2 separate regions of the Homo sapiens genome follow, and region 2 is linked to region 1. Evidence: fine-mapped expression QTL. A gene starts in region 1. The other region holds a variant in brackets. All regions are shown on one strand. Distances are between the middles of the regions. Region 1 holds the start of ZNF84 (zinc finger protein 84). Region 2 overlaps ZNF84 (zinc finger protein 84).

The links.
Region 2: its variant is fine-mapped to the expression of ZNF84 in whole blood (TOPMed, PIP above 0.99). The same link has a PIP of 0.9 or more in B cells, breast, gastroesophageal junction, monocytes after interferon gamma, sun-exposed skin and thyroid.

The regions. Positions count from the first base shown.
Region 1 is chr12:133,034,358-133,039,738 of GRCh38, forward strand. ZNF84 (zinc finger protein 84) reads left to right here and starts at 3,152. Exons shown (of 5, transcript NM_001289971.2): 1 at 3,152-3,188. ZNF84-DT (ZNF84 divergent transcript) reads right to left here and starts at 2,865. Exons shown (of 3, transcript NR_110091.1): 1 at 2,412-2,865. RefSeq lists an enhancer at 2,769-2,858 and a silencer at 3,079-3,258.
Region 2 is chr12:133,060,242-133,065,622 of GRCh38, forward strand. It overlaps ZNF84 (zinc finger protein 84), which reads left to right. Exons shown (of 5, transcript NM_001289971.2): 5 at 1-3,058. Among named protein-coding and RNA genes, the nearest start is that of ZNF140, 18 kb to the right of the region's middle. The variant G/A (reference allele first, on the strand shown) is at 2,832.

The sequences.
Region 1 (5,381 bases):
TATTATTAACTGTCGTCACCATGCTGTCCATTAGGTCTCCAGAATTTATTCATGTTATAACTGCAAGTTTGTTCTCTTTTTAAAACATTTGACCAACATCTCCTCATTTCCCCTACTTGCCACCTGACCTCTGGTAACCACTCTTCCACTGTTTCTATGAGTTCGACTTTTTAAGATTCCACATCTACGTGAGATCGTGTAGTATCTTCTTTCTGTATCCGTGTATTTCTATGTGTATTTCACTTTGCATAATGTCCTCCAGGCTCATCCATGTTGTAGTAAATCACAGAATTTTCTCCTTTTTTGAGGCCAAGTAATATTCTATTGTGTACGTATACTACATTTTCTTTATCTTTTGATAGATGCTTAGGTTGTTTCTACATCTTCACTATTGTGAATAATGCTGCAATGAACAGGGGAGTGCAGATATCGCTGAGATATCTTTTAATTTTATTTATTTTGGATATATACTGCTATGATTTGAATGTCTATGCCCTCTGAAAATTACGTTGCAACTAACCCCCATTGTAACAGTGTTAGGAGAGTGGGAAAGCTGCCTATGGCAATTGAGAGGTGGGACCTTTGGGAGGTAACTAGGATTAGATGAGCTCATGAGGGTGGGCATTAGTGGCTTTATAGGAAGAGAAAGAGAGAAATGGGCTCGGCTGCTTGATCCCCCTTCACAGTGTGCACCCTGGACTGACCTGGGGCTCTGCAGAGAGTCCTGCTAGCAAGGAAGTCCTTACCAGAAGTGTCCCTCAACCTTGGACTTCCCAGTCTCCAGAACTGTAAGAAATAAATTCATTTTCTTTATAAATTATTCAGTGTCAGGTATTCAGTTACAGCAATAGAAAATAAACTAAGACAGAAAATTGGTACTGAGGAGTGGGGCTGTTGCTAATAATAAATCCTGAAAATGTGGAAGTGGCTTTGGAACTGGGTAATGGGCAGAGTTTGGAAGAGTCTGGAGGAGCAGGTTAGAAAAGGCCTAGATTCTGGTGAGGGATTGTCTCAAAAAAAAAAAAAAAGAAGAAGAAGAAGTTGTGAAACCATGCCCCCAAATAGTTAAAGAAACCAGTGACTAACGAATTTTTTTTTTTTGAGATGGAGTCTCGCTCTTGTCGCCCAGGCTGGAGTGCAGTGGCGCGATGTCGGCTCGCTGCAATCTCCACCTCCCAGGTTCAAGCGATTCTCCTGCCTCAGCCTCCCGAGGAGCTGGGATTACAGGTGTGCACCACCACGCCCAGCTAATTTTTGTATTTTTAGTAGAGACAGGGTTTCACCATGTTGGCCAGGCTGGTCTCGAACTCCTGACCTCAGGTGATCTGCCCGCCTCGGCCTCCCAAAGTGCTAGGATTATAGGCGTGAGCCACCGCGTCCGGCTAACAGAAATTCTTGAGCTTACAGGATGGCAGATAAGAAACAGTTTGCTGAAACTCCGTTTGTAATATAATACAACTGGCTGAAATCAGTTGAAACCAATATAACCAAACGGAGTCCATGCAGAATGAGCTTGCTGATGTCGCAGCCTGAATTTCCACTGCACTTTTCACACTAACTCTACCTTAATTTGCACATGGGACCCAAGAAGAGGCTTGAAGAGACAACTGCACATGGTCGGGGACTTTCCAGACTTCCTTTTTCCTTCACCATTCACCTGTGAATCCCAGAATCCACCCTCTAAACCTTTTTTCACAATAGTGCTGCCTTAAGGGCAGCACAGAGAGATAGATTTGAACTAAACTCCTGTCACTTTGTTGGTCAACTCGCAATTAAGCTTTTCTTTTCTCAAACGCCTGGTGCCATAGTATTGGCTTCTGTGCACATCGGGCAATGAGGTCTTTTGCGTAGCAGTATTTGGATATCCGGTTTCCTCACGCTATTTATTGAAGCGACTGTCCTTTCCCCATCGTGTATTCTTGACACAAGATTAGTTGACTTGCCTAAGATTAGTTGACTGTATATGCATGGGGTTATTTCTGGTTTTTCTACGCTGTTCCACATTGGTCCATGCGTCTGTTTTTATGCTAGTACTTCACTGGTGAGTTCTACCTCTGGGAATAAATATAAGAATTCTCTAATCACTGGATGTTTGAAGCAATTCACTAAGCAACTCATTATGATGCTTTCTGGCAAAGGATCTCTGAATTTGTCTTCAAATTGTGGATAAAATTGGGTCAAATTTGGCCCATGTTGTCCTGGAGAATCATTTGTGTCACAAATTATCAAATTTATTAGTATAGAGCGGATTTTCATTCAATTTCCTATGTGTCTATGGTTATTTCTCTTTTTTCATCTCTCTCCTCCATCTCCCCGGCCCCATCTTGCTGTCATAAGCATCGTGACTTACCTATAATTCTCCCTACGACTCCAGTTATGGATCAACTTTACTTTTTTCTGTTAATTCTTACCTTCTTTCCATAAATATATTTAAATTTTTTCTGGTTTCCTCAACTGAAGTCAAACCAATTGAGTATTGGTGGGCCGGGCGCGGTGGCTCACGCCTGTAATCCTAGCACTTTGGGAGGCCAAGGCGGGCGGATTGCCTGAGCTCAGGAGTTCGCGACCAGCCTGGGCAACACGGTGACTCCCCGTCTCTACTAAAATACAAAAAAATTAGCCGGGCGTGGCGGCGGGCGCCTGTAGTCCCAGCTACTCGGGAGGCTGAGGCAGAAGAATGGCGTCAACCCGGGAGGCGGAGTTTGCAGTGAGCCGAGATCACGCCACTGCACTCCAGCCTGGGTGACAGAGCGAGACGCCGTCTCAAGAAAATATATATATATATTGGTGGATTCGGTTTCCCTTTATGTTTCTCAGAAAACCGTGTGAGCCCGTTTGGAGTCACTCCGTCTCCAAGCGACAGGCACTTCCGGACGCGGGGCACTGTGGGAAGTTGAGTTCGCGGGGCTCCTTCCTTCGCGCATGCGCACATGCACTCTTGGTAATGCTTGCAGGTGGCCCGTTCTTCCTCTTTGTCCTTCGCTGCCACGTGAGAGGGGAGTGTACGCGTGTGCGCGCGTGCGAGTGTGCGCGTGTGCAGTCCCCGACTCGTCCCGGCCCGTTCGGAGCCGCCCGGGAGCGCACAAAGGCCGACGGTTTGGGCGCGTGCGCGGGACACGGGGGACGGGCGGTGTCACGTGATCGCGAGGCCGCGGGCGCGCGGGCGCGACTCGGCGGCGGCGTCTTTTGTGAGTTCAGTGAGTTTATTGCGGGCCCGGCGCTGGGGGCTCCGGGAATGGCGGGGGAGGCGCGCGGGAGTGGCCGCGGGGAGCTTCGGCTTCAAGGCCCTGGGCGTCCGCGCGCGGATGCGGGTCTGGGGCGGGTTGGGGCTGGGCCGGGTCGTGAAGATGCCGTGGGCCGCGGAGCTGCGCGGATTCTGGGCTGTGGGGCGGGCACGGCCTTTCCGGAGGCGCCGCTCCTGGGCGTCCTTTCAGGCGGGCGTGGAGGCGCCAGCCTCGGGCGCGTTTAGCCTCGGGCGCGTTTAGCCTCGACCTCGGGCCAGCCCGCTTGCCGCGCCGTGGCCCTAAGGAGCGGCTGCCCTGCTGGACCGCATCCACCAGCAGCCTGGCTCTGCCGCTATCGAAGGAGGCTTTTAAAGCGCTGGGGTTACAGGTGTGAGCCACCATTCCTGGCCGTGTATTTTTTAATGGTTATATTTATTGACTGTTTTAAATTTTTTAAGTGACTTTTGCTTTTGGTATGGTGTAGCGAAATCTCCCCTCAAATTATACATATATTCATTCACCTGTGGTTTTTTTTTGTAGACATTCTTAGGGTTTCCATTATTTTAAAATTTAACCCACTGAAAGTAGTTGTATGAAATAGCTACGTTTATTTTCTTTCAAATATTCTTGTATTCATTAAATAATTTAATTTTACTGATGGCTTTGAAATGCTACATTTATTGCATGCTGACTCTTGCATATTTAGACAGTTTGCTTTTTTTCATCTGTATAACTTCTCTGGAGCCAGTGTCAAATGTTATAATGATTATAATTTGTATGTATTACAGTGGGCCTGTTCACACTCATTATTTTGTATTTCCAAAAGCATCCAGGCCCGGTGTGGTAGGGCATGCCTGTAGCCCCAGCTACTCTGTAGGTTGAGGTAGGAGGATCACTTGAGCCCAGGAGTTCAGGGCTGCAGTGAGCTATGGTTATGCCATTGCACTTCAGCCTGGACAACACAGTAAGACCCTGTCAAAAAAAAAAAAAAAGTGTCCGAATTGTTCTTGAACCTTTTTTCTTACACATAAACTTTAGAATTTTGAGATTCTGATTGGAGTCGATGAGTTATATAAATCATTTGAGGTCAAATTATCTTCACAATCTGAAGTCTTCCTATCCCAGAATAAAATCGAATTATAAATTTCTTTAATTCTATTTTTATAGTTCTCATTGGTGTTTTTAGTATGCTTCATATGGGTCTTGATATTCCTACATATTTTATGTATTTTGTCAATTATGAGTCGGATTTTATTTTTTTGTTATTTTATGTGAGTTGTTTATATCTTACAGAAATAAGGTTATTGACCTGGAAAGATGTTCTTCACATAATGGGAAAAAAACAAAAACAGCTTTTAAATATGACCATATGCTTCCATTGTATGAAAAATATCACAATAGTTTCCATCATCCTAAGAATGGTTACCTGTGGTGAGATCATAGATAATAGTTCTTATTTAGCTTGTGTATGTTTTTTATATTTTGCCATCATATATTACTTTTATAATAATAATTATAGCTAGTATATGTTTCGTATGACTGTGTGCCAGCTTTTGTTCTAAGATTTATGTATTATCACAATTTAAGGTATAAAGGAGTCATTTCTTGTATAACTGGGAGAAACTGCTGTGTGTTTCTGAGTTGGCACTGAAGTTTGAACCACAAAAAGGCATGAAAAAGAAAGTGCTGCTTGTTAGTGTGATACAGTTGAGGCAGGGCGTCCTTCATTTATATTTTTGTGGGAATTAGTGACTGAATGTGTGCATGGGAATAGGAGCTGACTCCAGGATTTATGTTGTGTGTGTTTGTGCATGTAGATATGCACAAATGACAATATGACTTTAGTATTCATGCTTTGAACATAGCAGGATAGAGAATTAACATTTGAATTTTGCTACTTACTAAATGTGCAATCACAGGCACATTTTACAATCACTCATTGTCCCAGTTTTCTCTCTGTAAAATGGAGATTATGTTAAACGCCTTATAGGGTTGTGCATGAGTTAAATTTAAAATGCTTAGTATATTGTCTCACATACAGAAAGCACTGGAATGTTAGCTGTAACTGTTATTACAAGGCCCCAGTCGCTTTCCTTTTAACACCTCATTTGTTTCTTAGACTCCCATTGTGAGGTCCACTTTATCTTCACCATTTTA
Region 2 (5,381 bases), 26 kb after region 1:
AAAAATTAGATGGATAAATGAATTATTAAAAAATCACATTTCTGAAGATGTAAAGTATTAGGGAATTTTGTGCTGGAAAAACATTTTTGACATTCAAGGATGCCTATTTTATCTTCTAGCAAATTTCTGTGGTCCCTGGAAAAGTACAGATGATCCTGGACTTACAGTGGGGTTACCTCCCAATAAACCCATTGTAAGTTGAAAACATTGTAAGTCAAAAATGCATTTAATACACCCAACTTACCAAACATCATAGCTTAGCGTAGCCTACCTTAAACATTCTCAGAACACATTCTAATGCATCATCTATTTTATAAAAAGGTGTTGAATATCTGATGTAATTATTGAATACTGAAGGTGAAAAATAGTAGTGTATGGATACCATTGTAATGTTGAGAAACTGTAAGTCACATCCTCTTAAGTCAGGAACTATCTGTATAAGGAAACAAGATTTCCATTTTATCATTTGAAATGTATTTGACTTTGTTTCACTAGTTGCATTATCCCCATGGAAAACTTCACATTGAGAACTTACCATTATATATTTCCATAAAAATGCATGAACCATCCCTTAGCTAAGTAAGGATTTTGTAATGTTCTCTCAATAATGTTGCTTGGCAAAGTTAATATTTTTTGTATGCTGATGAAATTTAGAAAAGTCCAATATTGAGCTTGATTGCAAACTTAGAAAAACTCAAGACTTCTCCTTTTATGTTCAAATTGTTGTATCAGTATGGTATTTTGCACCTTTACCTTAAACAATATTTTCTCCTTTAATTATTGATTTTGCAACATTTTGGGAAAGTTGGAATTTTAAATAAATGAATAATTTTCTAAACCAGAATACCAGTTCAACAGCCAAATAATTCTGTCTTTCCATGCTGTAATTTTAAAGCATTTAATTTTCCAACTTTTTGTTCATACTCAAGTGTATGAACTTCCTGGCTGGGCACAGTGGCTCATGCCTGTAATCCCAGCACTTTGGGAGGCTGAGGACCTCAAGTGGAGACCTCAAGTGGATCACTTGAGGTCAGGAGTTGAAGACCAGCATGTTCATGGCCAACATGGCAAAACCCTGTCTTAAATTAGCCGGGCATGGTTGTGCGTGCCTGTAATCCCAGTTACTCAGGAGGCTGAGGCAGGAGAATCACTTGAACCTGAGAGGCAGAGGTTGCAGTGAGCCAAGATTGTGCAGCCTGGGCGACAGAGCGAGCCTCTGTCAAAAAAAGAAAAGAAAAAGAACTTCCTACTTTTTAATATCTCAAATTCATTTTACTAGACGTGGGAGACCAACTAATGCAAATGAACAGTTACAGGGTGATGTTGTACTTTGTGATTTTTGCCCTATTTTTTCTTTCCATCTATCACCATTCTCTTTCCAATCCCAGAGATTGATTTATTAGGTCTTGGAAATTCTAGATTATTCCATTAACTATTAAGCAGTTAAACCTGATACTTCCTACACTAGATAATGGAACTTCAACATTAGCCTATTGATTGCCCAAGAACAAACATTTTTTTCTAAATGTCAGGTGTTATGGGGAGGATTGATGCTGACAGCAGAGGTCTAGTTAAAAACTGATGCAGAGGTTCAAATACGTTGTGCAGTAATCACTAGAACTCACCTTCTAAAGTGTCATGAGAGCTCTGATTCTGCAATTAGAGATTTTTTAATGTGTTTTTGAAATTACCTTGTAAACCACAAATCTGTGTCTCTGCATTGCCCCTTATTGTTTCCTACCACAAATTCTACATCAAGAAGAAAGTTTTAAAGTTAGACTGGATTTATTTGTGATTTTATGGAGCACAATAAGGTACATTGAGATAGCATACTAAAGGAGGCCAAATACAGGAAGCATCATCTTTTCTTATTCTCTTACTGCCTGGATTTTCCCACTGACCTGGAATTGTGCACAGTTCTACAAAGGACAATTGACATTGTTTTCCTTTTACTAAGTAGTGGGTTTTCCTTAAGGTCCAGACTGAATTTTGAGACCTGTATCAGGATTGCCTTCTGTGTGACTTTTTCTTGCAGGATCTGACATCATTACCTATGGGTCCATATATTTGTGATACTTTGGTTTCGGGAACATCACTTTTAGAATGTTGACATAAAATGCACCCACAGAATGCCGTATTTATCAAAAGTAACTTTCTAGCAAAATCTACAGCAGTAGGCATTTGGAATCTGCATTTGAGACCTCTGCAGTCATTTGGTCATTCCAGCAATCTATGTCCAGGTTGTCAATTTCAGAGGTCTTATTAGTCTATACAGGTACCAATGAGCTTTCAGATGTTCAACACCTACCCCTGGCCTAACTGCTGATAACCAACCATAACCCTTGCAGATGCATGCATGTTTTCTGCACCTTGCTATCATTTTTCAGTCCATTTTTCACATGTATACATAGTGATTATTTTTAAATGCAACCCTGATTTCACATGCCTCATGTTGAAATATCGTGTGGCTTATTGTGGACTTAAAGTGTAACATTCTCCTTATGGTATGTAAGGACTTTTGTATAAACCAATGCCTATCTATCTATCATTTCTGAAAACTTTTTCCTCCTATGCAATATTTTCTGGCCTCTGTGAACAACTTGTAGTTCCTTGAGATTTCTATTATCACTTATGTTTTTGCAAATCTGCAATTGAAATGCCCTTGTTCCTTGTTAATGCCTATTGAATCTATATGAACCTGTACGTGTGTTTCTCACTGTGATAATATAATCATTGCATGTTTTATCTTTCCCACTAGAAAGCTTCTAGAAAGCTAGTACTATCTTTTTTGTCTGTGTAATTTTTGCATCACAAGCTATATTTAAATGTGG[G/A]TGCAGTGAGTGGCTGTTTTCTGCCACATGGAGAAACATGGTCTGCAGTGAGAGAGAAGAATGAAGCCATGATGAAAGCAAAATCAAGAAAGAGTCCCGATTGTGTTCCAGTACCTGGTTCTTCTGGTCTTCATGTTCAGGTCCACCTCTGCCCTTTTCATGTCTTGATTGTTGAATTCTTCTGTGAGATACTCCAAATATCCTAATAAATTCTCATGTTTGCTTCATCTGGCTCAAGTTGTGTTTGTTACAACCCAAATATTTCTAACAGAGGAAATCAGGCTATGTCGTAACTTGTTCTCTGGAAGTGGTTACTGAGAAGTTTGGGTGCAAGATGTCTACTGAGGATCAACAGCTGTGAAATGATTGAAGAAGAAGAAAGAAAACATTGAGCTGAGGAAGAAGTCAATTTGCACTGCATTGGAGCCAGCAGGGAACTCTGGAACATGTACTGCCCATTGGAGTGCCTCGTGTTGAACCAAGACGGCCAGGCCCTTACAACCCTGCATTGCTCACCCCATCACCCAGACTCAGGCTGCCCTGGGAAGGAAGCAGCCTTAGGTGAAGCAGCTCTTTTCTTCAGTGATGCTGCTGATTTCTTAGGTGAAGCAGCTCATTTCAGCTGAGGCCAGCTTCAAAAGTGGAGGTTCTCTGCTGATGACTCTCCCTGCCCTGGGTAAGTCCCTCCTTGAAGAGAGATCTGAGTCATAATGCATGTTTCTGATCACACAGTCCATCCTTCCCACCACTTAGATCCCCTTGTCTATGTTACATTTGGGAAGCTGCTGCTCTAGGATTCTGGTGGGGCTCTCTCTGAAGAGACACTAAGAAAAGGAAGATTCATAGGACAAACCACAGCCCCTAATGTTGCAGTTGCTTTCTGTATTAGTCACTGTAGATTCTCATCACACCCTGTTAGCACCTCTGTGGACATAAGTGGCTTATGTGGTAGCTTGTCCCAGACCCTTATTCCTGAGGGGGTCAGAGCCCTGGCCACCATGTCCTTTTCAGATCCAAGTTGCTGTATTTGTCCACTTACATCACAATGGGGCAAGGAAGTTCAAAGAGGCACCTAGGAGGGCCACCTGAGTTCCACTCCTTTTTTCTCCTGCCCTGTTGTGTAACAGCAGCCATACCTGCTGATGATCAGTGTCAATGCCCCAGCAAAGAGTGGCTTTTCTGGCATGCTGGTCCTTGGACACAAGGGTACAAAGTTCCATGCTGTATCTGTAGTTTATAATTTAGAACACTCTGTCCTCAGGTGGAAAGTGCCCCCTCTGGGGCTAATCCTTGATGTTTGACCTTTATACGGTGCTGTGTTTTCAAAGAGAAAGAACACATGGGTTTGGGTACTGCAGTGTGGAAGCAGGAAGATCACAGATGATCCTCTAGGGGGACCTTGTGCTTCCCATAACCACAGCTCTGAGGTTGAGAGAGTTAATATTGCTCTGGGAGCAAAACTAGTTATATCATTGTCCATTTTGTGTACATTGTTTTTCTTTCTTTTCTTTTTTTTTTTTTTTTTGAGGCAGAGTCTCACTCTGTCGCCCAGGCGGGAGTGTGGTGGCACGATCTCGGCTCACTGCAAGCTCCGCCTCCCAGGTTCACGCCATTCTCCTGCCTCAGCCTCCCGAGTAGCTGGGACTACAGGCACCTGCCACCATGCCCAGCTAATTTTTTGTATTTTTAGTACAGATGGGGTTTCACCATGTTAGCCAGGATGGTCTCGATCTCCTGACCTCGTGATCTGCCTGCCTCAGCCTCCCAAAGTGCTGGGATTACAGGCATGAGCCACTGTGCCCGGCCGTGTATGTTGTTCATTTCATTGCCCACATCATTTCACTTGATATGAATGCAAACATTTATGCTTTTTTCTGAATCGGGATATTAAAATGCATTTACTGGATCAGTGGCCATATACCATGTATCTGAGGCTGTATTAATCTCTTCTAGTGGAAATATCACATCTGGCCTAATGGCTGTGATCAGGACTACTACTTAGTTGAGCTTGAAGTTGAATTGCAGTTATGAGTAGTTTTTACTAGAGATATGATGGGAACCATCACTCCTAAATCTTTTATATCCTGAAGGGTGTCTCTAATCTCTACTATCCCCCCAGAGATTGTTCTTATTTACTATCTTGGGTGGATTGTAGTTTGAGGCTTCCACGTGGCCTTTCCTCATGCAATAGTTTTTTTTTCCTGCAAGCAAGGACCTAATAACCACTTGTGATACAGCAGATGTGAGCTGCTTTTTGTGCAGCCAAAGGCCCTCTAACTTTCACAACTGCAATCAATTGTCTATTACTTGTCCTCAACTGTTTGTTATCTTTATGTAGAGCATCAGTGGCTTTCAGCAGTAGCCACTGTATTAGTCCGTTCTCATACTGCTATAAAGAAATACCACAGACTGGGTAATTTATAAAGAAAAAGAGGTTTAATGAACTCACAGTTTCACATGGCTGGGAAGTCCTCACAATGAAGGAGGAGCAAAGACACGTCTTACATGGTGACAGGCAGGAGAGCGTGTACAGAGGAACTGCCCGTATAA